Homo sapiens: one gene and its partners. The protein of the gene in region 6 purifies or fractionates together with the protein of the main gene of each other region. This does not show direct contact. Each region holds a gene or a part of one and is shown on either strand. Other genes may lie near its edges.

What was found.
Region 1: the proteins of ARMC6 (region 6) and C1orf198 purify together in Homo sapiens (affinity purification with mass spectrometry; 2 studies listed by BioGRID and IntAct, with this or other methods). This does not show direct contact.
Region 2: the proteins of ARMC6 (region 6) and GALNT11 purify together in Homo sapiens (affinity purification with mass spectrometry; 2 studies listed by BioGRID and IntAct, with this or other methods). This does not show direct contact.
Region 3: the proteins of ARMC6 (region 6) and SLC20A2 purify together in Homo sapiens (affinity purification with mass spectrometry; 2 studies listed by BioGRID and IntAct, with this or other methods). This does not show direct contact.
Region 4: the proteins of ARMC6 (region 6) and SLC16A10 purify together in Homo sapiens (affinity purification with mass spectrometry; 2 studies listed by BioGRID and IntAct, with this or other methods). This does not show direct contact.
Region 5: the proteins of ARMC6 (region 6) and TRIM33 purify together in Homo sapiens (co-immunoprecipitation; one large-scale study listed by IntAct). This does not show direct contact.
Region 7: the proteins of ARMC6 (region 6) and SLC12A2 purify together in Homo sapiens (co-immunoprecipitation; one large-scale study listed by IntAct). This does not show direct contact.

The regions. Positions count from the first base shown.
Region 1 is NC_000001.11:230,854,550-230,858,901, forward strand, and holds part of C1orf198 (uncharacterized protein C1orf198), read right to left. Parts: intron 1,459-4,352; exon of another isoform or gene 1,329-1,458; intron 1,170-1,328; coding exon 1,119-1,169; intron 1-1,118.
Region 2 is NC_000007.14:152,028,272-152,032,623, reverse strand, and holds part of GALNT11 (polypeptide N-acetylgalactosaminyltransferase 11), read right to left. Parts: intron 1-4,352. UniProt on the Homo sapiens protein: Polypeptide N-acetylgalactosaminyltransferase that catalyzes the initiation of protein O-linked glycosylation and is involved in left/right asymmetry by mediating O-glycosylation of NOTCH1.
Region 3 is NC_000008.11:42,418,176-42,421,655, forward strand, and holds part of SLC20A2 (sodium-dependent phosphate transporter 2), read right to left. Parts: intron 1-3,480. UniProt on the Homo sapiens protein: Sodium-phosphate symporter which preferentially transports the monovalent form of phosphate with a stoichiometry of two sodium ions per phosphate ion.
Region 4 is NC_000006.12:111,090,284-111,094,635, reverse strand, and holds part of SLC16A10 (monocarboxylate transporter 10), read right to left. Parts: intron 1-4,352. UniProt on the Homo sapiens protein: Sodium- and proton-independent thyroid hormones and aromatic acids transporter.
Region 5 is NC_000001.11:114,399,435-114,403,786, forward strand, and holds part of TRIM33 (E3 ubiquitin-protein ligase TRIM33), read right to left. Parts: intron 3,450-4,352; coding exon 3,326-3,449; intron 2,030-3,325; coding exon 1,955-2,029; intron 176-1,954; coding exon 23-175; intron 1-22. UniProt on the Homo sapiens protein: Acts as an E3 ubiquitin-protein ligase. Promotes SMAD4 ubiquitination, nuclear exclusion and degradation via the ubiquitin proteasome pathway. According to PubMed:16751102, does not promote a decrease in the level of endogenous SMAD4.
Region 6 is NC_000019.10:19,043,001-19,047,352, reverse strand, and holds part of ARMC6 (armadillo repeat-containing protein 6), read right to left. Parts: intron 3,362-4,352; coding exon 3,279-3,361; intron 1-3,278.
Region 7 is NC_000005.10:128,184,584-128,188,141, reverse strand, and holds part of SLC12A2 (solute carrier family 12 member 2), read right to left. Parts: intron 3,420-3,558; exon of another isoform or gene 3,354-3,419; coding exon 3,286-3,353; intron 1,647-3,285; coding exon 1,511-1,646; 3' UTR 1-1,510. UniProt on the Homo sapiens protein: Cation-chloride cotransporter which mediates the electroneutral transport of chloride, potassium and/or sodium ions across the membrane. Plays a vital role in the regulation of ionic balance and cell volume.

The DNA of each region.
Region 1 (4,352 bases), on a different chromosome or scaffold from region 6:
TGCCTTCCCCAAAACCACCTCTTAACTCTAACACTCATCTCAATTGTCCCACGCTCCCACGCCCTGAGGCCAGCTCACTTCACCCAGGGCAATCGGCAATAGCTTACTAAATACTGTCTGTGTGCCAAGAACAGTGTCAGCTGTCCTTGTGTCCATCTGAACCCTTGGGCAATATTTCATTTTAAGACACAGTCGCCAACATGAGGGCCTCTCAGGGTCCTTCATGAACCACTCTGGCCCACCCTCCTCATAGGTCTCCTGCTGGGATGAGGGCTCTGATCAGCAATGATGTGGACAAGTGAAAAACCAAAAAACAAGTGCCTTGAGGTATCAGTATTTAAAAACCCTGATCTGCCCAGCAGTCCGAGCCCTATTCCAGGCTCACCACCGTCTCTGTCTGTAACACACTCTCATGACGTAAAGAACCCTCCAACACACATCACCAAATGTTCCAGAATTCAGAAAATCTTGGTCTTTTATTTCTGTCCCTTGGGTTAAAGACACCTGTCTTTTAGTCATTTTGCTTATGAATGTACTTCTACTGGGGCAACTTAGGAGATGGGGAAAATGAATTAAAATCAGTGAAGCTTGATGCTCTTAAGCAACTCTGGTGATGATGATGATAATGATGAGAAGAAGAATGACTGGGAGACAGAATTAGTGATCCACGTTGGGATGAATTAGCTAAATGGATGTCTATGTCTATCAATCAGCTCGTCACCTCCCATTTGCTCAAAGCTTTGTCTTATGGGGCATCTCCCATCAAGGTGCTAAGTGCTGGGAACCAGAGGTATGAGCAGAGACAGGGCCCCCAAGAGGGCTGGCCCCCTTAACCAAGCTGGCCGGGAGTCCTAGACAATGGGCATCATGGGGCGTCATTGGACCCTGGCAGAAAGCACTACTACTTTGAACTCACTATCACCAAACCACACACAATAGTTTCCTAATTCCTCACCATGCTCCTCCCATCCCCTCCTTTTCTACCAACAATGGACACATCCCCTGCAGCCTGGCAGTCAGGGGGCTGTCTTCTGAGTCCATCAAATGCTGAAAGAAAAATATACAACTACTCAGTTCTTTTTAAAAGAACAAATAGATCTAAATTTAATCCAACTTACCTTTGTTTCCCAGGAGAAAGGGGCAGAGTGCTCATCTTGCCAAGTTAGATCCTGAAATAAAAAATCGAGAATAAGTCTGAAATTCAAACCCAGACATACCCCATGCAAATATCCACCCAGGACCGTGGGGGAACCAAAACTTAGGAATAATCCCAACTCCTGGCTCTAAACAAGCCTGATGCTTTGACACTCTCAATATAATGCGCTGACCGTCTTGATCAGATTGCTCCCTCATCTTTCCCGCTGAGGCTGCCAGACACTCCCCTCCCCAGCCAAACAGACAACAGGGAATGCCGGTGAGGCCCCCCAATGGACTCAGACAGATGAGATGAGTAGGAGTGGATGAGGGCTTGATGGTCTCAGCAGAATCAGGCACAGACTCAGCCCTGAACAATGATTAGCTGTGTGGCCATGGGAAGATGACTCAGCCTTTTTGAGCCTCAGTTTTCTCATTTGTAAAAGCAAAATGATACTTCCCTTGCAGGGCTGTTGTAAGGATTAAATGAGGTAATCTGGGAAAAGAACGCCAAGCCATAATCTGCCAGTCAATGCCAATACAGGAGCTCCCCTCCTCCCCAACAGGCCTACCAGAGAGCTCGAGGGCATGGATCAGCAGAATCAATGAAGAAAAACGCCAATGTAATCCATGTGACTAATTATAACAAGAACTCTGAAATCACTCCCCACCCCCACCAAACAGAACAGGACAGAAAGAGCCCTATAGAACAATCACTACGAATTTGACCTTGGATCCAGTATGTTTTGTTCACTGGCCTGCACAAATGACTTGGGGAAGCCACCTTTCCTTATATCCCACCCTCTACCCGCAGTTATTCCTGTGCTAGCAAATGTCTCATCTGTGTCCAGCTTCGATTGGGTAACTTTTGTTTGTTTGTTGGTTTGTTTTAAGAGATGGGGTCCCAGTATGTTGGCCAGGCTGGACGCAAACTCCTGGGCTCAAGGGATGCTCCTGCCTTGGGTGTCCAGAGCAGCTGGGACTACAGGTGTGCACCATGTCTGACTGCTTCTACTGGGAGCATATTTTCAGAACAAAAAATCAGGACACATTGGGTGATACAGGCTAAAATGGGATAAAATATTTTAAACGGAGATCATATCCATATCTCCCCAAAACTCCAGGTGATTTATGTCCTTCCGTAAGTATCCCTGGATAACTGTCTTCTTCCCACCCATAGGTACACCGACTCTGCGCCCCTAAGTCAAGGGTCTGGCTTCCCTCTCCTCTACAGGGCAAACCAGTTCTGCCCACAGACCCTCTTCTTTCAGCTTTTGACAGAGCCTCCGCCACCCTAGCTTAGCCTCAGACACTGGGGGCAAATGCCAGGGCCCACGCAGGGGGAGTGCCTCACCAACACATAAGTGTACACATTCAGCCTTCCAGACCCCGAGTGTGCGTTCTCTGTGCAGACGCCTCCTAACATGAACAGCCAGTGGGAGGTCAGTCTTTGAACTCAAATAACGAAGGCATGCCAGGGTCTGGGCAGCTGAAGGCCTATTCCCAAGAAGCGGGGACAGGGAAGGAAGTGTGTGATGACTCCCCAGCACAGCCCAAGCACGGCCAACCCTAGATGACAGGGGCAACACAGCAGGGCCTTTGTCCGCTTCTCTATCCCAAGTGCCCGGAAGACTCAGCGACTGCCCGTAGCGGACGCTTACTCACTCTTTGAGAATATGTGAATAAACAAACTCTGCACAAGCCCGGATCCTTTCACAGGTTGATTTTCCCCCACAATCACCCGCTCCCAACACTCACACTCCCCCAAGACTTCCCAATGTGGGGGCACAGGCTCTTCACAGCTCTTGGCCCCAGGAGGAAGAGCCAGCCATCAACAGGGTAGAGATCTGGTTCTGTGTCCTGATGGCTGTGCTGTGTGCCTTGGCTCTGTGCAGTAGAGGCTGGTACATTTGTGGCACAAATACTTCACATATGCTGGGGATAAAGAGCAAGGAAAACCCAGAGAGGAGACTGTCAAAAGGCCAGAATCCAGGTCTTTATTTTCCCAGGACAGCATATAAAAGGACTAAATATATTTATATCAGGAAAAAAAACACCACTAACAAAGATACTAGGTATAAATATTAAGAATTACAAAAGTGAGGGAAAAGCCCTACAAACTGGGTTAAGCTGCATTAAAGTGTATCAAACAGTCAGTTCTGAGAACCACATAGTGTGTGCAACTAATGACCATGTGCACAGTAAGATGACCCCCATCCTCAGAGTGTTACAGTCACTGTCCTGTAATGGTATTTGCTTATGATCCTGACTTCTGAACTGATTGGTATGCAGTGCCTCATGGCTGTCAAGCAAAACCTTTAAAAATGAGAGGAACCACTGCCTTTTTGTTTGGAATTTCAGTTAAACTCAAGTCACTTCCCAATGCACAAACTTCATTCCTCCAAAAATGGAAATGGATGCCTGGAGGAATGTGAGTTACCAAGGCTTTGTGATTAGATGTCTCCTAGCAGAGGCAGAGGGCCAGCCTTCAGCTCTAGGGGGCTCCTTGTCCACGTCTCTGTGTGCATGCTAGGGGTACAGTTGAGCTAAATAACCAAAGTCCCTAAAATCCTCAGAACCCTCTGAGTTCCGTTTAGAAGCAATCAAACCAAGAAGGGCTTTGTTTTCACATGGGAAAAATAAAAGAGGCTGATGGAATGTAAGTATCATTTATTCTAGTTAATCATTCATTAACTCTTCGTGAATAAATGATCTCTGCACAAGCCTGGATATTTTCACAGGTTGATTTTCCTCCCCAGCCTCCACACCCCACACTCACACACCCCCTAAGACTTCACCGGCTCTTCACAGCTCTTAGTTCCAGGAGGAAGAACCGGCCATCCACAGGGTAGAGTAGAGATCCAGCTTTGGATCTTTCGAAAAAGGTAAATGGAAATCAACTGGCAAAGGTGCTCCTTCCATCCAGAATCAGACAGGCCACTGGCCACCCAAATGGAAAGAGGAAGTGCATGAACACCTGCGGGGCAGGCAGAGGGCAGGACCACTGACTGGCCAGGGTGGGGCATGATGGAGCTGGACTCCCCTGTTACTCGATATGATTCTAAATATTAATTATATACCTTAAGTCCCTTTGAAATCTGCAAAGATTAAAATAATAAGGCTTTTGGCTTTGGAAGGTGGCTCAATACAACACTCTGAGGAACGAAGACTTAGCCCAGAGCTTGGGGACAGTCAACTCTCCAGTGACTGCAACCCAT
Region 2 (4,352 bases), on a different chromosome or scaffold from region 6:
CTTAAGGCCTGAAGCTCATAAAGGATTACAGGATATTGTTAAACATGTAAAAGCTCAAGGCTTAGTAAAGAAATGCAGCAGTCCCTGCAACACCCCAATTCTAGGAGTACAAAAACCGAACGGTCAGTGGAGTCTAGTGCAAGATCTTAGACTCATCAGTGAGGCAGTAATTCCTCTATATCCAGTTGTACCCAACCCCTATACCCTGCTCTCTCAAATACCAGAGGAAGCAGAATGGTTCCCTGTTCTGGACCTCAAGGATGCCTTCTTCTGTATTCCCCTGCACTATGACTCCCATGACTCCCAGTTTCTCTTTGCCTTTGAGGATCCCACAGACCACACATCCCAACTTATATGGACCGTCTTGCCCCAAGGGTTTAGGGATAGCCCTCATCTGTTTGGTCAGGCACTGGCCCAAGATCTAGGCCACTTCTCAAGTCCAGGCACTCTGGTCCTTCAGTATGTGGATGATTTACTTTTGGCTACCAGTTCGGAAGCCTCATGCCAGCAGGCTACTCTAGATCTCTTGAATTTTCTAGCTAATCAAGGGTACAAGGCATCTAGGTCAAAGGCCCAGCTTTGCCTACAGCAGGTCAAATATCTAGGCCTAATCTTAGCCAGAGGGACCAGGACCCTTGGCAAGGAACGAATACAGCCTATACTGGCTTATCCTCACCCTAAGACTTTAAAACAGTTGTGGGGGTTCCTTCAAATCACCGCTTTTGCCAACTATGGATCCCCAGATAGAGCAAGATAGCCAGGCCCCTCTATACTCTAATCAAGGAGACCCAGAGGGCAAATACTCATCTAGTAGAATGGGAACCAGAGGCAGAAACAGCCTTCAAAACCTTAAAGCAGGCCCTAGTACAAGCTCCAGCTTTAAGCCTTCCCACAGGACAAAACTTCTCTTTATACATCACAGAGAGAGCAGGGATAGCTCTTGGAGTCCTTACTCAGACTCGTGTCTGACAACTGGTGGCACACCTAGGTAAGGAAATTGATGTAGTAGCAAAAGGCTGGCCTCACTGTTTAAGGGTAGTTGCAGCAGTACCCATCCTAGTGTCAGAGGCTATCAAAATAATACAAGGAAAGGATCTCACTGTCTGGACTACTCATGATGTAAATGGCATAGTAAGTGCCAAAGGGAGTTTATGGCTATCAGACAACCACCTACTTAGATACCAGGCACTACTCCTTGAGGGACCGGTGCTTCAAATACATACATGCGTGGCCCTCAACCCTGCCACTTTTCTCCCAGAGGATGGGGAACCAATCGAGCATGACTGCCAACAAATTATAGTCCAGACTTATGCTGCCTGAGATGACCTCTTATAAGTCCCCTTAGCTAATCCTGACCTTAATCTATATACCAACAGAAGTTCATTTGTGGAGAATGGGATACGAAGGGCAGGTTATGCCATAGTTAGTGACGTAACCGTACTTGAAAGTAAGCCTCCTCCCCCAAGGACCAGCACCCAGTCAGGAGAACTAGTGGCACTTACCTGAGCCTTAGAACTGGGAAAGGGAAAAAGAATAAATGTGTATACAGGTAGCAAGTATGCTTATCTAATCCTACATGCCTGTGCTGCAATATGGAAAGAAAGGGAGTTTCTAACCTCTGGGGGAACCCCCATTAAATACCACAAGGAAACCATGGAGTTATTGCATGCAGTGCAAAAACCCAAGGAGGTGGCAGTCTTACACTGCCAAAGCCATCAAAACGGGAAGGAGAGGGGAGAACAGCAGCATAAGTGGCTGGCAGAGGAAGGGAAAGACCAGCAGAAAGGAAAGAGAGAAAGAAACAGAAAATCAGAGAGAGACACAGAGAGAGGAAGTGAGAGACAAAGGAGTCAGAGAGAAAGAAAGAGACAAAGTCAAAGAGACAGAGACAAAGAGAGAGTCAGAGAGAGAGACATAGAAAGGCAAAGAGAGAGAGGAAGAGACAGACAAAGAGGGACTCAGAGAGACAAAGAAGTCATCAAAGAGAAAGAGAGATAGAAGTAGTAAAGAAAAAACAGTGTACCCTATTGTGGGCGGCAAGCCACCCAGGTGCCGAGGCAAGAGACTGAGGGCACGAGCTGTTCCAGTATAAAATATATAAAATAAGAAGTTATACTAAATATAGATCATAGAGATGATTATATATGAATATCATTAATCATTAGTTTGTAGCAATTACTCTTTATTCCAATATTATAATAATCTTCACTCTACAATCATAACCTAGGAAAAACCAGGCCATACAGGGATAGGAGCTGAGGGGACATAGTGAGAAGTGACCAGAAGACAAGAGTTGAGGCTTCTGTTATGCTCGGACAGGGCCACCAGAGGGCTCCTTGGTCTAGTGGTAACACCAGCGTCCCGTGATCTAGCGGTAGCATCAGTGTCAAGGAAAAACACCCGCTACTTAGCAGACCAGGAAAGGGAGTCTCCCTTTCCCCGTGGGAGTTTACAGAAGACTCTACTCCTCTACCTCTTGTCTTTTCTTTTATCTCTGTCTTGTGTCTTTATTTCTACACTCTCTCGTCTCCGCACACGGGGAAAAAACCCACCGACCCTGTGGGGCTGGACCCTACACCCTATTCCTTTAAAAGCCACAGTAAAGTTAAAACCTATAACTGATAATTGAAGGCCTTCTCTGTAACTCTGTAACACTCCAATACCACCTTGTTGTCAGTGTAAACAAGGGCGTAGCCCAAAAGCACTGAGGCCACTGACAACCCATAGCCTTCCTATCAAAAATCCTTAACCCAGCAGGTTTCCTAACAGGGGATCTAAATCTTAACTAACTACCATACAAAGGTCCGACCAGATCTAGGAGGAACTCCCTTCAGGACAGGACCATAGATGGTTCCTCCTGGGTGATTAAGGAAAAAAGACACAAGGGGTATTCAGTAAATGATAAGGGAACTGTAGAAGCAGAGTTAGGAAAACTGCCTAATAATTGGTTTGCTCAAATGTGCGAGCTGTTTGCACTCAGCCAAACCTTAAAGTACTTACAGAATCAGGAAGGAGCCATCTATATCAATTCTAAGTTAATATGGACTGAACGAGGTCTTATTAATAGCAAAGAATAATTGAAATCCCAAACTTACAAGGTTTTCAACAAAAGTAAAGTTTGCTAAAAGTTAACAGTGTAAACATATATTATTCTAACTTCTAATCTTGTGGAAATCAGACCCTATCAGTACCCCTCAAAGCTCAAGTCCGTCAGTGCAGAGCCATACAACTAATACCCCTACCTATAGGGTTAGAAATGGCCACTGCTACAGGAACTGGAATAGCCAGTTTACCTACTTCATTATCCTACTACCACACTCTCAAAGGATTTCTCAAGAGAGTTTGCAAGAAATAACAAAATCTATCCAGTAAGGATAGTAACTACAATTCCAAATAGACTCTTTGGCAGCAATGACTCTCCAAAACCACCGAGGCCTAGACCTCCTCACTGCTGAGAAAGGAGGACTCTGCACCTTCTTAGGGGAAGAGTGTTGTTTTTACACTAACCAGTCAGGGATAGTATGAGATGCCACCCAACATTTATAGGAAAAGGCTTCTGAAATCAGACGCCTTTCAAACTCTTACACCAACCTCTGGAGTTGGACAACATGGCTTCTCCCCTTTCTAGGTCCTGTGGCAGCCATCTTGCTATTACTTGCCTTCGGGCCCTGTATTTTTAACCTCCTTTTCAAATTTGTTTCCTCTAGAATTGAGACCATCAAGCTACAGATGGTCTTACAAATGGAACTCCAAATGAGCTCAACTAAACTTCTACCAGGACCCCTGGACCAACCTGCTGGCCCTTTCACTGGCCTAAAGAGTTCCCCTCTGGAGGACACTACAATTGCAGGGCCCCTTCTTCACCCCTATCCAGCAGGAAGTAGCTACAGCAGTCATTGGCCAAATTCCCAACAGCAGTTGGGGTGTCCTGTTTAGAGGGGGGGGATTGAGAGGTGAAGCTGGCTGTGCTTCTGGGTCGGGTGGGGACTTGGAGAACTACTCTGTCTAAAGGATTGTAAATGCACCAATCAGGGCTCTGTGTCTAGCTAAAGGTTTGTAAACACACCAATCAGTGCTCTGTGTCTAGCTAATCGGGTAGGGGACTTGGAGAACTTTTCAGTCTAGCTAAAGGATTGTAAATGCACCAATCAGTGCTCTGTGACTAGCTAACTGGGTAGCAGACTTGGAGAACTTTTCTGTCTAGCTAAAGGATTGTAAATGCACCAATCAGCGCTCTGTGTCTAGCTAAAGGTTTGTAAACGCACCAATCAGCACTCTGTAAAAACCGACCAATTAGCACTCTGTAAAACAGACCAATCAGCACTCTGTAAAACAGAGCAATCAGCACTCTA
Region 3 (3,480 bases), on a different chromosome or scaffold from region 6:
TATAGTTGTTTTGAGACAGTCTCACTCTTCACCCAGGCTGGAGTGCAGTGGTGTGATCTCAGCTTACTGCAACCTCCATCTCCCAGGTTCAAGCAATTCTCCTGCCTCAGCCTCCTGAGCAGCTGAGATTACAGGCGCATGCCATCACCCTTGGCTAATTTTCATATTTTTAGTAGAGACGGGGTTTCACCATGTTGGCCACGCTGATGTGGAACTCCTCACCTCAAGTGACCCTCCCTCCTTGGCCTCCCAAAGTGCTGGAGTACAGTGGTGCAATCTCAGCTCACTGCAAGCTATGTCTCCCAGGTTCAAGCGATTCTCCTGTCTCAGCCTCCTGAGTAGGTGGGATTACAGGCAAGCACCACCACATCCAGCTAATTTTCATATTTTTTAGTAGAGATGGGGTTTCGCCATGTTGGTCAGGCTGGTCTCAAACTCCTGGCCTCAAGTGATCGGCCCGCCTCAGCCTCCCAAAGTGCTGGGATTACAGGCGTGAGCCACTGTGCCCAGGTTGGATTTTGGCTTTAAAAATAATATTCCCGGCCGTGCGCGGTGGCTTCCGCCTGTAATCCCAGCACTTTGGGAGGCTGAGGTGGGCGGATCACGAGGTCAGGAGATGGAGACCATCCTGGCTAACACGGTGAAACCCCGTCTCTACTAAGAATACCAAAAATTAGCCAGGCGTGGTGGCAGGCGCCTGTAGTCCCAGCTACTTGGGAGGCTGAGGCGGGAGAATGGCGTGAACCTGGGAGGCGGAGCTTGCATTGAGCTTGCAGTGAGCGGAGATCATGCCACTGCACTCCAACCTGGGCGACAGAGAGAGACTCTGTCTCAAAAAAAAAAAAAAAAAAAAAAATTCCCTGAAATCGACTGTAGTTAACAGGGAACATTTAAAATGTATCTTGAAATAATTCAAAACTTAGAGAAAAGCTGCAAGAACTCCTGTTTTCTCTTTACCCAATTCACTATTTTTTGACATTTGCCACAATCTGTGAAGAGACTTTTTAATATGATTAAAATATCCTGCATCTTATCAAACCTCACTTTCCCCTTCTGCTAAAGATTTCACAATCCAATGTTTATGACGATGGCTATAAAATGGTGATTTACCAGGCCGGGCATGGTGGCTCACGCCTGTAATCTCAGCACTTCAGGAGGCCGAGGCGGGTGGATCACCTGAGGTCAGGAGTTCGAGACCAGCCTGACCAACATGGTGAAACCCTGTCTCTACTAAAAATAAAAAAAATTAGCCAGGTGTGGTGGTGCATACCTGGAATCCCAGCTACTCACTTGAACCTGGGAGGTGGAGGTTGCAGTGAGCCAAGATCGCGATACTGCACTCCAGCCTGGACAACAGAATGAGACTCAGTCTCAAAAAAAAATAAAATAAAAAATAAATAAAATAAAATGGTGATTTACCAAAGTCCATTGCAATTTCTCACATGGAGTTCTACTTCAAGGAAGAGCTCTTTCCTCTCCCAACGTGTTTTAGGACCTTAATACATAATGACAAATAGTTTTATAAATAGCTGTTAATGTAGTGTCATCCATAATCTGTGAATATCAGCACATGATATCATGTAAGTTGCTCTTTTTTTGGCTAATTAACCGACAAAAAGATGCACTGTTGCTGTTTTAATTTGCGTATCTTTAATTACAATTAAGGCTGAACTTTAAAAAATATATTTACTGAATTTCACTCTCTCTAGCTTTCACATATACAAATTGTCGGCCAGGTGCAGTGGCTCATGCTTGTAATCCCAGCACTTTGGGAGGCCAAGGCGGGCGGATACAAGGTCAGGAGATCAAGACCATGCTGGCTAACAGGGTGAAACCCCATCTCTACTAAAAATACAAAAAATTAGCTAGGCGTGGTGGTGCACACCTGTAGTCCCAGCTACTTGGGTGGCTGAGGCAGGAGAATCGCTTGAACTGGGGAGGTGGAGGTTGCAGTGAGCCGAGATGGCACCACTGCACTCCAGCCTGGGTGACAGAGTAAAACTCCGTCTCAAAAAAAAAAAAAAATTGTCTCTTCATGTATTTTGTCCATTTACATACTAAAATCTAATGTGTTCCTTATTTATTTATGTGTAGTCTTCACTGAATAATATTAACTCTGTGATATCGAATACACATTTTCTTAAGGTAGTATTTTGCTTTGTTTCACTTTCAAGTTTCTAACTTCATGCAATAAAATATGCTATAATTTTCTTCTGTGATTTATCCTTGGCTTGAATATTTGATAAATATTTAATTCCATTTTATTTTTCTAAAATAAAATTCCATTTTACTCTAAATTTAAGAATATTTTTAAAATATTATTTAAGCCATCAGATTTATGTTCATGTATTTTGAGAGTGGTCTAATTTTGTTTTTCTAGACTGACAGTCAGCTATTCAACCTTTCAAACACTTACTGGTTAAATTTTCCCTTTTTCAAAATACATGCTCATATAGAACAGGTTCCATCCATTGCTATCTACTCTGTTCTTATCCAGGTATCTACTTTTAAAAATTATTGTGGTAAGATATACATAACATAAAACTTACAGTTTTAGTAATTTTTCAGCATACCATTTAGAGGCATTAAGTACAATCACATTGTTTTGCAAACCATCACCACAATCTGTCTCCAGAACTTTTTCATCATCCCACGGGGAAACTGCCCCATAAAACACTAACACCCAGTTCTAGCCCCTCCTCCCAGGACCTACTCTTGACTTTTGTTTCCTTATATGACATTATACGTCAGGTAAGGCTAGTTCCTCCTTTCAGTTTTCTTGTTAGATCATTTTATATTGCTGATAATTTATTTCACCAAAATGTATTCTTTAGTCTCGTTTTGTAAAATTCCAAGTAAAATCCTGTTCAGGTTGTATTTAGGGAGAAGTGACTTCATTACAACATCTGGTTTTCCCATCCAATAGCACATTACGTCTCATATTCAGATTATCTTTTTATACCTCTGAGCAGTTTTGTGCCTCTTCCATATATATCACTCACATTTCTTTTTTAAAAAATTATTTATTTAGTTGTTTAGAGATGGGGTCTTACTATGTTGCCTAGACTGGTCTTGAACTCCTGGGTTCAGGCTGTCCTCGTACCTTCAGCCTCCTGAGTAGCTGGGACTATAAGAACACACCATGTGCCTGATGACACTCACAGTGCTTATTAGGATTATTCTGAGATAACTTTTATTTTTGCTGCAATTATGGTGGCAGTTTTTTTCCCTCCCGTTACATTTTCTAATTGGCTATTGCTGATGAACAAGTGCTGGATTTTTCTATTTTTACCTTGGACTTGGTCACTCTTACGAACTCTAGTAGTGTTTTAGAAATACTGAATATCGGCCGGGTGCGGTGGCTCATGCCTGTAATCCCAGCACTTTGGGAGGCCGAGGCGGGCAGATCACCTGAGGTCAGGAGTTCGAGACCAGCCTGACCAACATGGAGAAACCCCGTCTCTACTAAAAATACAAAAT
Region 4 (4,352 bases), on a different chromosome or scaffold from region 6:
AATGAAGGCATGAATTAAGACACAGTAGTGAAAGAAAAGTGGGACTGATTTATGAGGCATTAAGAAGGTAAACACAAAAGAACTCTGATTTAACAAAACAGGTAAGGAAGGAAGAGAAATAAGAAGCTAAGATACATTCCAGGTTTCTGACTTAAACAACCAGAGGTATCATGCACAGAGAATTAAGAAGGAGGAATATGGATTCAGAAGAATGCCGACAAATGGGCTGTCATTTTTGGTAGTAAGGGAAGGTTGTATGGTGTAGCTGAAAAATGAGTTCATGTTAGTTTAGTATGATGTACCTGTGTACCCAAATGGAACTGTCCAGAAATAGTAAATAAGTCTTGAACACAGTGATGAGATTTGGAAATAACAGCCCCAAGACAGTGGATGGAAGAAAGCAGGAAAAGTGAAGCAAGTATATGGCCAGGGGCTGAGCCTCAAGGAACTGCAACAAAAAGATGTAGCAAATCACATCAAAAGCAGAGTACAATTTATTCTAAAAGACACCTCAAAATCGCTCCTGAAAAAATGTGTTATGCTTTTCATTTTGGCTAATTGGGTTCTTTCAGCAGTTAATTTTATTGAAATTATTAATTTTTAATTCCATGAAAAAACACCACAGGAATCTCACATTGTTGTATTTAATTAGAATTCACTATATATGCTATTCAGTCTCGCACTTAATCCAGAAACATTCTGGAAATGAAGTATGAAACGCCCATACCATACTCACTATTATTCCAAAATCCTAGAACCATTTTTATAATCTTCTCACTTATTTTAGCAGGTAGTTTAGATTGGTTTATTGCCATAAGTGAGTTCTCTTAGCTTTTCTACCTCTCTTCCAGTGTAAATAACAATCAGGTATTTTTCTTATAGTGAAAGATGTATAGGACCATGAACCAGATTATTTGTTCACTGTAACTAGCTCAACAAAGGACTGTTACTAAAAATTTTTCTAAGATACAGAAATGGCTAGTTATGCAGGCCGCTTTTCCTACTAAACAAAACAAAATCTCTTTAGCGTAAAGGCAAAACATAGCAGTTAATTTCTGAACTATAGCCAAAATTTCCTATAATCTAGGTGTCACATACAACAGTACAATGTGGATATCAGTATAACTGTAAATGTGAAAACTTGGTGTGGGGGGAACAATTTCTGAGGAAGCACTAACTGACCTGAAGTTTCAGAGGGGCTAGCAAGATACATGGAGAGGTGCTGCAAGATTCATTCATCCCTAAATGCTACTGAAAACCCTACTTTGTGACTGTAACCATCTAAAAAGAAATCTGTCTCCATACAGGGAGTGTAGAGTTGCGTTAAAGATTATAGCCAAAGAACCTCCCTTTCAGGACCTTTTTGATAATCTACTTCCAAACTACTTAATTTTTAATGTTTTGATTTACACTTTTTTTGTGTGTGAGACAAAGTTTCTCTCTTGTTGCCCAGGCTGGAGTGAAATGGCACAATCTCAAAACAAATAAAAAGCCCTAGGCTCTTCATTAGTTCCATGGGTTTTCCAGTATCTAGCAGAGTTAAAACAAAGTTGCTCTTTCTTTTTTCTTTTTTTCTTTTCTTTTTTTTTTTTTTGAGACGGAGTTTCACTCTTGTTGCCCATGCTGGAGTACAGTGGCGCCATCTTGGCTCACTACAACCTCTGCCTCCCAGGTTCAAGCAATTCTCCTGCCTCAGCCTCCCGAATAGCTGGGATTACACGCATCCGCCACCATGCCCAGCTAATTTTTTGTATTTTTAGTAGAAACGGGGTTTCACCATCTTGGCCAGGCTGGTCTCAATCTCCTGACCTCAGGTGATCCACCTGCCTTGGCCTCCCAAAGGGCTGGGATTACAGGCATGAGCCACTGCGCCCAGCCCAAAATTGCACTTTCTAAAGAAAAACAATGTTCCACTTAATTGTATTTCTTTGTATTCTTCCCCAGAGTGTCTGATTCCTCTCTACCTAGGCAAGAAGAATACACATGTGAACAGGTAAAAATTCAACTAAAAAGAGACAACTTGGCCAGGCGCGGTGGCTTATGCCTGTAATCCCAGCACTTTGGGAAGCCGAGGCAGGTGGATCACGAGGTCAGGAGTTTGAGACCAGCCTGGCCAATATGGTGAAACCCTGTCTCTACTAAAAATACAAAAATTAGCCAGGTGTGGTGGCAAGCGCAGGTAGTCCAGCTACTCGGAAGGCTGAGGCAGAATTGCTTGCATCCGGGAGGCAGTGGTTGCAGTGAGCCGAGATGGTGCCACTGCACTCCAGCCTGGGCGACAGAGTGAGAATCTGTCTCAAAAAAAAAAAAAAAAAAAAAACAACAAAAAAAGAGACAACTCAAGCTTAGCTTGCTCCCTCAGACAGAGCAGTATGTGTGAGACACTCCTCTGAGTGCCATGTCATTGGCAGCTGGGCACCATAATGGGACTGTGATGCCGTCAGCATTTTTCATTGGTTCTACTGCCCAACTTGGAGTTGGCTTACTTCCCCTTTCCAAAGTCTTAATTTCACCAAGTGAGATTTATAACCATAGAGAAAGAGGCGTCAAATGCCTTCCCCACCCCCAACCCCACCACCTGTTGAAATGACCTTAGAATTTCAGCCTTTTATAGTAAAACTGAGTCCTGTTATATTGAAAATCCTTCAGGGAAATATTCTATTACTTCTGGTCTGTTATTAATTTGTATCCCACAACAGATCCTAAGCTACTTTGAAACAGCTGACATTTTCTCTCTCAGTCATTATCTCCAGTCCCCAGGACAGAGCCCAAAACAAAGCGTGTTAGATAACTTGGTAAACATTTGTATAAAGAGAATTAACAGTAAGATGTGTAAACTCACTTACACCTTAGTGTGAATGAACTTCTTCAGGCCCTTTCCTGAGAAATTTTGGGTAGATTATCCATTGCGTGGGAAGAGTTAACAGAGCCCTGAAGAGAAGTGAGCCTAAGAAAGGCTCCTCCTCAGTTCTGCCTAGAAACATTGTCCTGCTGTGGATCAATCTAAAAGTTCTTCAAAGGAAACCCCAGACTTTTGCTTGAACGGCATATGGAAGTATCTTGTTCTTCTATGGAAGTCTCTCTACACTTCAGAAATATAGTTTGAGACATTAATAATTTGCAATTGTTTATTCACCACAAAGTAGGACCAAGAAACAGGGACCCTTCTTTCTAATCCCAGAATGCATGGTAGAGCACTCAACCAATCACTAACACTTAAATTAATCAACAACATAAAAAACATCGTATTTGCAGAATGTTATCTAGTCAATGCAATATGATGAATGATTAAAACCCAGCTCCTGGTGCTTGCTTCAGCAGCACTTTGAACAACAATCTACTAAAATTGGAATGACACAGAGAAGATTAGCGTGACCCCTGAACAAGGATGACATGCAAATTCATGAAGCATTCCATATTTTAAATAAATAAATAATTAAAATAAAAATCCCAGCTCTTAGAGTCAGATAAGCCTGGGGTTGAATTCTGGCTCCACTTCTTACTTAAACTCTGTAAGCCTGAGTTCCCATATCTGAAAAGAAAGATATTAACAAAGTCTATCAGAGAATCGTGGTAAGGTTTAAATAGGAACGCATCTAAAGTGCTTAGCCACAGGAAAGTACTCAAGAAATGCGCACCATCATTTGGAGACCTAGATTCCATTCCACCACCACCTCCCTGTATATCCTTAGGCTAGTCACTTGCTATAAAGAAGTAATGGAAACAAGGAGACAGAACTAGCTGTACTCTAACACCAGGATTATCCATCATGAGTACGGTAATAGAAAATAGACCAAAACTTTGAAAAATAAAAGGCTTAAACAAATTCCAGATATTTTTTGGCATGTATTTGAAGCTTGCATATGCTTGATCACAGACGACTCAGCATTCGAATATCAAAGTGAAAAAGTGTGACCAATCAAACTTCAAAGCAGATATTCTCAAATAACAGTGACTGTGGTAGATGAGGGACTTCATGAAACACCTTTGTGTGTGTGTGTGTGCACTGAAGGAAAGAGAAAGGGGTAGGGGACAGGGGAAGAGAGAGAGATCTCAACAATAACTGGCTTAAAGACTATCTTGTAACCATTTTTTCAGCACTAAGTTTAAATCTGTTTTCTTCCTCAGCCCTTAACATCTATCAGTCATATATGTATTACCTAGCACCCAAGTAATGGCCATTGTTCAATCTAGATGCTGTGTTATACAGGGCCATTACAAGTGCATAGGGCCCTTCTGTAGGAATCAGACAAAGGGCACCCAGAGCCCAGGCTGGTTTTCAGTCCCCACTTACCCCTGAGTTGGGCACCCTTGTGCAATGGCACAACCATAAATAGATATACAGCAGTCAG
Region 5 (4,352 bases), on a different chromosome or scaffold from region 6:
TATAGGTTGGAAGTTAACATACTTCATTAAACCTTTCACAGTTCTTGAAGATCAAACGGACATCGGCCACAAAGTCATCCGGGATTTGGTAGTGTTGGGAATGTTTTTTCTGAAGCTTCTTTTTCACGGTGGATAAATCCATTGGTTTCTTTATAATTTTATAGTAGTTTGGTATCTAAAATAAGCACATAATGGCAAATAAGAATTCTCCAAAAATGCCAAACTGTTTAATTTGAAAATGCATAGCATATTAATTTTAGGGAAAAAAATTATTATAGAGCCAGCTGCTTGCAAATTTTGAGTATAGACGTATGTACTTTACATCTTCATGAAAACCAAATCTTATGTGGCATATGTGCCAATCTTCATGGTTAGTCCAAGTCCCCAAAGTCCTACTTTTAATAATAAGATTTGGAAAGAAAGCAATTAGCAAGGGTAACCAACCAGTAGCCTTGAGGCAACATTTGACTTACCAGAATTTTATGACTCCTTAGGAGTTTTTCTTTTTTTTTTAAAGAAAAAAATTTACAAAATATATTAATGTTACAATTAGAATATGATGTCTTTTGGAAAACATAACAGGGAATATCATTTACATCACGAAGTCTTGACTTAGTAACAGAGGAAGTAAGACTAAGAACATAAGAAAAATTTACTAACTTTATTAACCATTTAGTGTTCACGCTAGGGAATTCTGACCCCAACTCTGGCGAAAAATTTCTACCCTTGGGATAAAAGTAAAGTTAGAGAAGCTATTTTATTGACTGATTGACTAATTGATTTTTGAGATGGAGTCTTGCTCTGTCGCCCAGGCTGGAGTGCAGTGGTGCAGTGGCGCCAACTGTGGCTCATTGCCACCTCCATCCCCTGGCAATTATCCTGCCTCAGCCTCCCTAGCAGTTGGGATTACAGGCATGCACTACCACGCCCGGCTAATTTTTATATTTTCAGTAGAGAGGGGGTTTCACCATGTTGGCCAGGCTGGTCTTGAACTCCTGAACTCAAGTGATCTGCCTGCCAGGCCTCCCAAAATGATGGGATTACAGGCATGAGCCACCATGCCCGGCCAAGAAGCTACTTTAATAGTCCATAAAAAGAAAACATTTGAAAGTCATTTTCTACTTTAAAATCCCTGCACTTAAAGATGAGACAAATTTTCCAGAAACAGATGATTACTGCTTGTACAAAACATCTTCCTTCTGTCTATACCTTTTGTGATTTAAAATTCATTTCTCAGGCTACCCAGTAAACAAGTCAACTACCATTTAATATTCTCTAACAGGCCTGGTATGTAATAATGTACTATTCAACAACTGATGGCTAGCAATAAAATGTGTGTAGAATATTCTTACCCCACTTATTAGGCACCAAACACCTCTAATCTTCCTTTTATTGCAGCATTTTAGAGCCTTTATTCCTTACAAAACTCAATGACTATAGACTATGCTAAATATTTTACATAGGTTATTTTATATAATCCTCAGAACAACCCAATGAGGTAAAAAATCGTGTCAGAAAACTTGAGTCTTAGAGAGGTTGAAGAGCTTATTCCAGAAGGCTGAGGTGTAATACAACTTAGTCTAAGGCCATACTCTTTTTTTTTTTTTTCTTTTTTTTTTTGAGACGGAGTCTCGCTCTGTCGCCCAGGCTGGAGTGCAGTGGCGCGATCTCGGCTCACTGCAAGCTCCGCCTCCCGGGTTCATGCCATTCTCCTGCCTCAGCCTCCGGAGTAGCTGGGACTACAGGTGCCCGCCACCGTGCCCGGCTAGTTTTTTGTATTTTTAGTAGACACGGGGTTTCACCGTGGTCTCTATTTCCTGACCTCGTGATCCGCCTGCCTCGGCCTCCCAAAGTGCTGGGATTACAGGCGTGAGCCACCGCGCCCGGCCGCCAGAGCCCATACTCTTAAGTATTATGAGACTTCCCCACCGAGCTACTAAGGTAGGCAACTCACCGAAGCAGGAACAGGCTCCTGGAATTCAATACTTAATTCATGGCAATAGAGGTAAAGCAGAAGACGTTCACATTTCTGGCCCAAACAAGGAAAGGAAAGCACATGAAATATTTTTCTCCTAATAAAACATTCTCGAGAATGAGAACTATATCACAACAAAGTTTGATTACAACAAACTGAACACAAGCCCCCTGTTTACTAGATACTCAACTAAACATAAACACCCAAAGAAAATTCCCTTGCTTCTCATTTTGTTTTCAGACTATCTTTTGTTCTACTTTAAGTAAGAATGGAAGATAACTAAGGTAATTTATGGAAGGGAGTCACAAAAGCAACATCTAACACTTTGTGCAAAAATTTATAAATTACTTGGTAATAAATAAATAAGTAAATAAATTATCACTGTTGCTCCTCATGGTAATTCCTTAGACAGGCAAGACAAATGTTGAAAGTTATCATCCCCTTTCTTCAAATGATTCCAGTCAGGTTCAAAATGAAAATGGCCTTCTCAGTCTAACTCCAAAAATATTTTTTTACCCAATCATGAGTAAACTGAAATGCATTTTACATTCACAGTCTTCTATTTATCTAAACTTCTTTTAATACAAGTTTGTATACCCTAAACACGTATCTTGTCTTCACAGATAGTGGATGAGGGTTTTTACCAGTATATACACCAGAGTAGAGCCAAACTTAACTCTAATGACCACACGACAATGCAAAAGAGTCTGTCTTTGGCAATCAGACTACAGGCCAGATTGGTAAAAATCTGAGTAAAGTAAGGAGAGAGTTTCCATTTTTAATATGATGAGAAGCTATTAGAGGATTTTAAGCAAGGAAATGATAGACTTGTTTACTTTTTTAAAAAGAACACTGTTTAATACAGAAAACAAACTATAAAGGTCAAGAGCAGAAGCGGGGAGAGCAGTTAAGAGATCACTACAATAGTCCAGATGAGAAATTATGATGTAAGGTAAGAAAATCATATTATAGTTATTATTATTTCATTTCTAATAGGTTTCTAACCTGAGCAACAGAAATGAATGGTGGTATCATTCAATTAAGGGGAATACTGGGGGAGGAATACAGTTTTTTATGTCGTTATTTGCTTGGTTTTGTGCTTGGAGGGAGAGGATTAGAAATTAAGATTTTAGTTGGGACATGTTAAGTTTGAGGAATCTGGATAGAAGGGTCTGTAGTTCAGGGTTAGAGGAAAAAAAGACTTCAGAAATCATCAATATACCATCAGATGACAGGATTAAAAATTAAATGTTATCAGGTTTTGTGTATGCTACACAGGAAAAAAAAAGGTGTATATATAGGCAGACAACTACTGAATCCCAGTGACAAATCAACTTATTTGACACTTACCCTTTGGTCCACGGGGCTTAACCCCTGCGCAGTTTTCCCCTTCTTACTATGTTGCAAATTATCACAATCATATTCAACTTCTGGCTTTCCAATATCTCTACAAAATGTGCATATCCAGTCCCCACTAGACAGGGAAATAGGCAATTAGTCCACGTAATTATAAGAAAGCCTGCTCTAGAGAAGCTACTTCCCTGGACTGGGGCCTGGTTTATTTTCTTAATAATTTTTTGAAAAAAGGGAGGTTTTATAGTTGTGAAATCTCGTCAGGTGAAGTCATGTGATTAAAAACTCCTCTAAATTTTCCTAGTCACGCATCAATTGATTACTTTCTGGAATGCATTATAAAAATGGCACCTCCGCATTAAAAGGGGGTCTCTTAGTAGTGATGAGCAGTACTTGCAGCATAAGGCCTAAGACCAATTCTCTCAGATCCCAGTATCACCATTATGTGGACTCAGTTATTTATGAAGAAGAAGAGCACAGGTTGCAGAGTTTCTCAGGTATCTTGTACTGTTTTGGCATGTATTAAAATGCCACAAGTAAATCAGTTCTTTTTTCGTGGTCAAAACCTAGAACACACAAACACATACCTGCAGGCACAAGCACATGTATATATACCTCCTTTTTTTTGGAGACAGAATCTCCCCCTTGCCCAGGCTGGAGGGCAGTGGCATAATCTTGGTTCACTGCAACCTCCGCCTCTCGGGTTCAAGCGATTCTTGTACCTCAGCCTCCCTAGGAGCTGGGATTACAGGCGTGCACCATCATGACCGGCAGATTTTTCTATTTTTTTTGAGACACAGTTTCACTGGGTCCTCCAGGCTGGAGTACACAGTGGCACGATCCTGGCTCACTCCAACCTCTGCCTCCCGGGTTCAAGCAATTCTCATGCCTCAGCCTCCTACGTAGCTGGGATCACAGGGGCCTGCTACCATGCCCAGCTAATTTTTGTAATATTTGTATGGGGTTTCACCATGTTGACCAGGCAACTCCTGACCTCAGGTGATCTGCCTACCTTGGCCTCCCA
Region 6 (4,352 bases):
AGCATTTTTTACACATCTAAGCCAAGATGCACAAAGGTCAATTATGCTGCAGGGCATTTGAGAAGGGGGTTGGTTCAGTTGCGAACTGACCGCTGAGATGCAAACCCCAGTGTCTGGTGGGAGGGACAAGGCAGGGACTTTCAGATTTTACTATAAATGCTTGAGTATTGCTTGAATCCTTTATGCTAAGAATGTATTTCCACTCTTCCTTAATGAAAAATAAAATTTAAAATTAGCCAGGCATGGTGGCAGGTACCTGTAATCCCAGCTACTCAGGAGGCTGAGACAGGAGCATCACTTGAACCTGGGAGGTGGAGGTTGCAATGAGCCGAGATCCTGCCATTGCACTCTAGCATGGGTGACAGAGTGAGAGTTTGTGTCAAAAAAAAAAAAAAAAGAAATAGAAAAAGAAAAAAAAAAAAAAACAGGTGAGCATGTTGGCTCACACCTGTAATCCTGGCATGTTGGCAGGGCAAAGTGGGAGGGTCACTTGAGGGCAGGTGTTCAAGATCATCCTGGGCAATATAGCAAGATCCCATCTCTACAAAACAAAAAATAGGCTGGGCATAGTGGCTCATGCCTATAACCCCAACACTTTGGGAGGCCGAGGCAGGCAGATCACTTGAGGTCAGGAGTTCAAGACCAGCCTGTCCAATGTGGTGAAATCCCATCTCTACTAAAAATACAAAAATCCGCTGGGCGTGGTGGTGCACGCCTGTAATCCCAGCTACTCGGGAGGCTGAGGCAGGAAAATTGCATGAACCTGGGAGAAGGAAGCTGCAGTGAGCTGAGGAAGGGCCACTACACTCCAGCCTGGCCAACAGAGTGAGACTCCATCTCAAAAAATAAATAAATAGGCTGGGCGTGGTGGCTCACACCTGTAATCCCAGCACTTTGGGAGGCCGAGGCAGGCGGATCACAAGGTCAGGAGATCGAGATCATCCTGGCTAACACAGTGAAACCCCATCTCTACTAAAAAATACAAAAAATTAGCCGGGCGTCATGGCAGGCGCCTGTAGTCTCAGCTACTCCAGAGGCTGAGGCAGGAGAATGGCATGAACCTGGGAGGTGGAGCTTGCAGTGAGCCAAGATCACGCCACTGCACTCCAGCCTGGGCGACAGAGCGAGACTCTGTCTCAATAAATAAATGAATAAATAAAAGAACAGTTAAGAAAAAAAAAGGAGCGAATGTTATAAACAAACACGGAGTTTCCTGTACTGCTGGTAGAACGGCCTTTCAGTGCTTTGCTTCCTGGATCCGGGTACCAGCTCTGCCTCTCACCAGCTGACCTTTCGGGGTGCAGGGGCGTGGTCACTGATCCTTGGGAAGCCTCAGATACCTCACCAGCAAGATGGGCTGAGCACAGATTAAGAGAACATATTTTAAGAATTTAGCATAATAGGCCGGGCATAGTGGCTCACGCCTGTAATCCCAGCACTTTGAGAGTCCGAGGCAGACGGATCACGAGGTCAGGAGATGGAGACCATCCTGGCTAACATGGTGAAACCTCGTCTCTACTAAAAATACAAAAAATTAGCCAGGCATGGTGGCGGGCGCCTGTAGTCCCAGCTACTCGGGAGGCTGAGGCAGGAGAATGGCGTGAGCCCAGGAGGCAGAGCTTGCAGTGAGCCAAGATCACGCCACTGCACTCCAGCCTGGGTGACAGAGCGAGACTCTGTCTCAAAAAAAAAAAAAAATTAGCTGGGCATGGTGGTGTGCACCTGTAATCCCAGCTACTTGTGAGGCTGAGGCAGGAGAATTGCTTGAACCCAAGAGGCAGAGGTTGCAGTGAGCCAAGACTGCGCCAGTGTACTCCAGCCTGGGCAACAGAGTGAGACTCTTGTCTCAAAAAAAAAAAGAATTTAGCATAATGCTGAGCACTTAAGAAGTACTTAAGCAGTAACTGCTAGACAATATAGACGATATTGTTATTGAGATCCTTCCTATATAAACTTCATCTACAAATCAGTAGGAAAAAGATGAATCACCCAATGCAAAGATAGCCAGAAGACAAACTCATTTTAAAATAAATTCATCCAGGCTGGGCACTGTGGCCCATGCCTGTAATCCCGGCACTTTGGGAGGCCAACGCGGGCAGATAACCTGAGGTCAGGAGTTCGAGACCAGCCTGGCCAACATAGTGAAACTTCGTCTCTACTACAAACACAAAAAAATTAGTCAGGTGTGGTGGCGTGTGTCTGTAATCCCAGTTACTCGGGAGGCTGAGGCAGGAGAATCACTTGAATCTGGGAGGTGGAAGTTGCAGTGAGCTGAGATCACGCCAGTGCACACCAGCCTGGGCAACAGAGTGAGACTCTGTCTCAATAGATAAATAAATATATATATAATAAAATAAATTCATCCTTATTAGGCAAGAAAGGCAAAAAGCAAACTAACAACAACGAGGCAATTTTCACAAGACCTCCTCAAGGCAGGAGAGGGCAGGACCCCGAGGTAGGGAGAAGTAAGTGTCATGCCTTAGGCAAGCCGGGTTTACACCCAGAGCCGTCTCTTCCAACTTCCTCTCCTATCACTGCACCTCCTGCTCCCATGTCAATGACTTCTCTTCTCTTTGGATCTCAATGTCCCCATCTCTACAATGGGGAAATCCCAGCCTTGCAGGTGTTGTTTGGACAGTGACCAAGAAGACAGGAAAAAAGTACCTGCACAGAACCAGGCCCACAGTCGGTTCTCAAACACCGGAGCCTTCTGCTGTATTACAAAGTTTGATGGGCGACCTTACGGAAAGCATTGAAGTTCTTTTACCTTCCTTCTTTCGGTCTCTGGAGAGGTTAAGTGCCAGCTCCTGGCCTGTTTCCCCATCACTAAGACAGGAATGACACCACCTACTTCACTGGTGAGCTTCAGTGCTAACGGACTGGCTGGAAAGTGCTGGTAAACAGTCAGTGCTCAGTAAGTGACAGCCTTACTGTGAGCCCACTCTCTCGTCCTATGAGTCCTGACCATCTGTCTCTGGGAAGCCAGAGGGGCACCTCTATGGTGTCCCTGACTCTGGGATCCCAGCAGCAGGGACAACCAAGCCATCTACCTGATTTCAGCATACATGCCACCACAGGAGCCTGGGATCCCCTGCATTGGAAGGCATGCCGCCCTCGGACATGGACTCAGGGAGACCTGGCTGCAAACTCAAGCTTGCCCATGCATGCTGGGGAGGGCATGACCTTCAGAGCCTGTATTCTGCCATCCAGGAAACAGGGAAGAGGTGCCCCCAGACAGAGGTGACGCAGGACCTGCTGTGTGGGATGCCCACTCCTACCTGCAGGATGTCATGTGTGGGCTCCTGGGATCCGTCTGCAGAGACTTTAGGTGCCGTCTTTACAATGTTGCTCAGATCAACCCCTGTTGGGGGTGGGGGAAGCAAGCACACAGGGGTCAGAAAGAAAGTGACAGCTGTCATCCCCGTGGGCCTGCTGGAATCACACCTCAGGACCCTTCTGCTGGGACCACCCCACTCCAGAAGCCTCCCACCTCCCTATTCCCGCCCATGCCACATCATCACGGGGGTGTAGAGGGTATTGGGTGTTTCTGCCACTGGTCCGTGGGCCAAAGGGAGCAGAGTGGTAGTGAGGCCGTTGTCACACAAGGCTGTCATCACAGGCCACGTCTGTGCAGTGAGGTGCCACATGCTGCCTGGTGGGCTTGGTGGGGGAGGGAGGGACCCCACAGCCTTCTCCCTTGGGGCTCCCATCCCTCCTGGCTCTGGCTGCATTCTTGCCCCTGCTGGCACCCCCACAGGGAGCCCCTACAGTGCTGGACGCTTTTGCTTGTCCCACTGGCCCCTGTCTAGTGTTCTATACCCCACTCTGTGCCTAGGAGGCTGACCTCTGACCTCTCAGGCTGTACCCTGGGTTTGTTCAATGGGGAAGTGAACTTGAGATGGGGGCAGGAGGAGGGGAGTGTGGGGTGTTCATTCCCAGCCCCCTGCCTCTGCCCCAGGGCCCAGCACCCATCATGTGGCCCCTGCCCAGGACTCCTGCTCCCTGCAGTCAGGGTCTCTGCCGGAGCTAGTTGTGCTAGGGGTGGTCTCCTAACCCCACCCACACCATTGCAAACAGCCCCTCATAACCACACTCATCTGCACCTGGTCTGAACATGCCACCTGTTTCCACAGGCTGCTTCTGCCTCTGTAAGCTCGAGGTAGGGTAGAGTAGGGCAGGGAGGCAGGGGCCCTGTTTCCCAGGCCAGGGTCAGGGAAAGTCTCTTCAAGGAAGTGATCAAATGAGACTCATGAGAAGGATCCAGCCCACAAATATCTGGGCGAGGTGGAAGCAGGTGAGAGGTGGGAGCAGGATAACCAGCCTGCCTCGGGCAGAAGCTGGAGGGGACAGGG
Region 7 (3,558 bases), on a different chromosome or scaffold from region 6:
TCTATGAAACCTGTATCTGTTAATCTGATTTTGAACATATGTTTACTTAAACCAAAGTTTGCCTAATGAATCTTGATCACTTTAAAATGCAAAATACCAGCAACATAAATTTCATTATATATACACATATGCATCTGTGTATGCATATTACATATATATACACACACACACACAAATATGTAGACATAAATCCCTTGAAATGTTTTCAGGAAATCCTTCCTTGAATTATAAATGAAAAACTTCACATTAATAATTTCATATAAAGCTTTTAGTAACAGTACATATGCACTGTCAAAATTTTACTAGACTATGATGTCAAAACAGACATTTCAAAAGCACAAACTGGCAGTTTTTCTTAACAAAAGTTTTAAAATATTAAGAATGGATTAAATTTTAATATTCAGAATAATCTGTTCAAACCTGAGTGTATTAAGACTAAGTGTACTTGACAATTGAATGAATTAAGCCTAAAAACATTTCTCTAAGAAACCAGTGGTCCATTTAACCATTTGATGAAACATTATTTTAATGACTTATAAAGGATAGTACAGTATACTGAAATTCCACTTAAATACTGAAATATTCTACTAAATGACATTGTTTTGTCTAAATTTCCTCCAGAAAAATCTGTTAGCATTTCTTAAAAGTCCCTCAGATTTGAGGGAAATTCTAAATTAGGACAGTTTTCTCTCCAAATAAATATAAATGATCTTGAGTATTTTTGTTTAAAGAATGACGTGATTTTTAAGCATGGTATATAGAAGTATGGGATGAATCTTCAATCTTCCCTAAGGTTTCAATAAATAATAATAAATATAGTAATAATAGCCAATCAGAGGGGTTAAAAAGGTATTTGGGGGGGCTTTTTTTCCTAGCTCTATATTCACATATACTCATATAAACCTTACCATGGGGTTACTTTTTGGTTACCATTTCCCCTTCCCCATTTTTGATTAACCTGCCCTAATTCTCACCTTTAATATCTAACAGATACCTTTATAGAATTAACAAAACACATACAGTACTCAACACTAAATGGTCAATGGAAGAAGACAAGCAGTGTTCATTTTGTTTTAAAGTGGAAGAGACTAGAAATAAAAACAGTTGAAGGCAAAGTTTGACATTCTATAAGTTTATAAAAGAGGATATATGGATGAAATTTGGTTAATTTCAGAAGGCACCTCAAGGCTAAAGGCTTTTTGTACTTCTTTCATCAATCAAAAAGTTAACACGCTTTTATTGCTATTCAAGTAGCAAAGGAAAACTACTCTCACAAACTTCAGTTCAACAGAGAAGAATCACCATTAAGATTGAGATATGGAATTGACTAAAACCGAAGTCTCCATACACGTTATCAATGGAGCAACTTTCCTGTGTGCTTTCAAATTAATGAAATCGTGAAAGAAAAGTCACCATTCGCCATTGTGATGTTAATGTGTCATTGAAGATTTCAGTTACTACACTAGGCACTGAAGTACCATTCTGGAGGGCTGTCCACTGTATAGAACATTTATGAATAGAAGGTAAGGACACTCTGATGATTCCCACGAACTAGGAGGATTGGTGGTAGGTCCTTAGATAGAGCTTCTAACCATGCCATGTAGAGAGCACTAGACACAGCACCTTTTCGTGCAACTGGGAGACTCCTGGTATCAAAAAGAGAAAAAGAAAAAAAAAAAACCCTGAGCAATGCATTTACAGAATAAAATGTAGCAAAAATTATAAAGTAGATTACAATAACAGTTACTGTAAATTACTATAATTACAGAATATTTCTGAGTGCAGGAGAATTCTGCAAATAGAATAACAACCACAGTTGTGTTGCTTAGCGATGGAGACGCATTTCTCAGAACTTACTGTCAGGCAATTTTGCCCTCGTGAAAACATCACAGGAGTACTTACACAAACCTAGATGGTATAGCCTACTACACATCTAGGCTATATGACACAGCCTGTTGCTCCTAAGCTACAAACCTGTATAGTACGTTACTGTAGTGAATACTATAGGCAACTGTAACACGATGGTAAGCATTTGCATATCTAAATACAGAAAAGATACAGTAAAAATATATATATATTTTTTTAAGAGAGATGGGGTCTTAATACATTGCCCAGGCTGGACTCAAAACTCCAAAACTCCAGATCTCAAGCAATCCTCCCACCTCAGTCTCCCAAGTAGCTGAGACTACAGGTGCACACCACCATGCCCAGCTTAACATATGGTATTATAATCTTATGGTACCACCATCATATATGCATATATAAAAGACTATAATCTTTCAACAAAAGATTTTTCAAAATTTGTTCATAAGAACAGTAAGTATTTCTATAAACCACAGTACCTCTGATATCTAACACTAAATCCTAGGTTTCCCCTTCTTTAATAAGAATAGAATTCTTTTAGGTGAAAGGTATGTTTACTATCAAAATTTAGAAAACAGAAGCTATATATGGATAAATGCAATTTTTATCTTCTCTTAGTTTTAATTTCTATTTATGGATGGTGGCAGCAGTGACCAATTGCTGTATAGTTTTTCTCTAAATTTCTATGTTTTGGTGTCTTTTCCATTTACAGGTATTTGATTATCATCAGCAAAACTTGAAACTTTTTGATTTATTGAATGTTGTTAAACTAACAATCTTTTGGTAGTTTTTTTCATTACTTGGCTTTTTTTGTGGGGGAGAGGCCTGAGCTTTCCTATCTAAGGACACATGTTCCAGAACTCAGAAAATGTGGGTTCAAAGAATAGCTAACCTAGTTCAGTAGAGGAAGAGCCAAAGTAGGCATTTAGTATCATATTTAACTCAAGGACAATGTGTCTGTATGTAAAATTTGCGTGTTGGAAACATAAGAATGGGGATCCAGATAGGAATCACTATTCAAGTTTAATCTGCCAAATAACATTTTTTGAATTATTTTCAAGAGGAAGCTGTCCGGGGCCCAAATTTTAACGTAGGACCCTCCTATCCACACGTGCTTAACGGCTATGCTGTAGTGTTTACAAAGATAAGGAATTTTAAAAAGGTGAGAAGAAGGGTAAACAAAAGGTTCCAATATAACCTACTATGATAAAAAGATTACTTGGGATTCATATAAGCATAAGGTTAAAGTTTTTGTCTTTCTCCATATGCTTAAAGCATAGTATATTTTTACAAGTTTGTTTTTTCCTCCTTATAACCACTAAGTCAATATGGGTGTTATATAGATATGTACTTGGAATAGAAATTAATTCAAAGCATATTATCATAAATTAGCAAGAAAATCTTTATAAAGATATTACTTACATGACAATAATATTAGCTGTGCTTGAATGTTCCTTTAATAACTCATTTAACCTGATCTGCCGGTATGTCTGAAATGAAACAGGACAGTCATTCCTAGACCATGTGGAAATAAGAATTTAGCATGGTTCATAAAACTATAAGGAGACAAAAAGAAACTGAAATGAATTTTCGTGTAATAAAAATATCTGTTCTCTATTTTTATTTTTTTTAAAAATGCTTTCCACTAACCTCAAATAAATCTATTTTAAAGTAGAGTTCATTTATACAACTGAC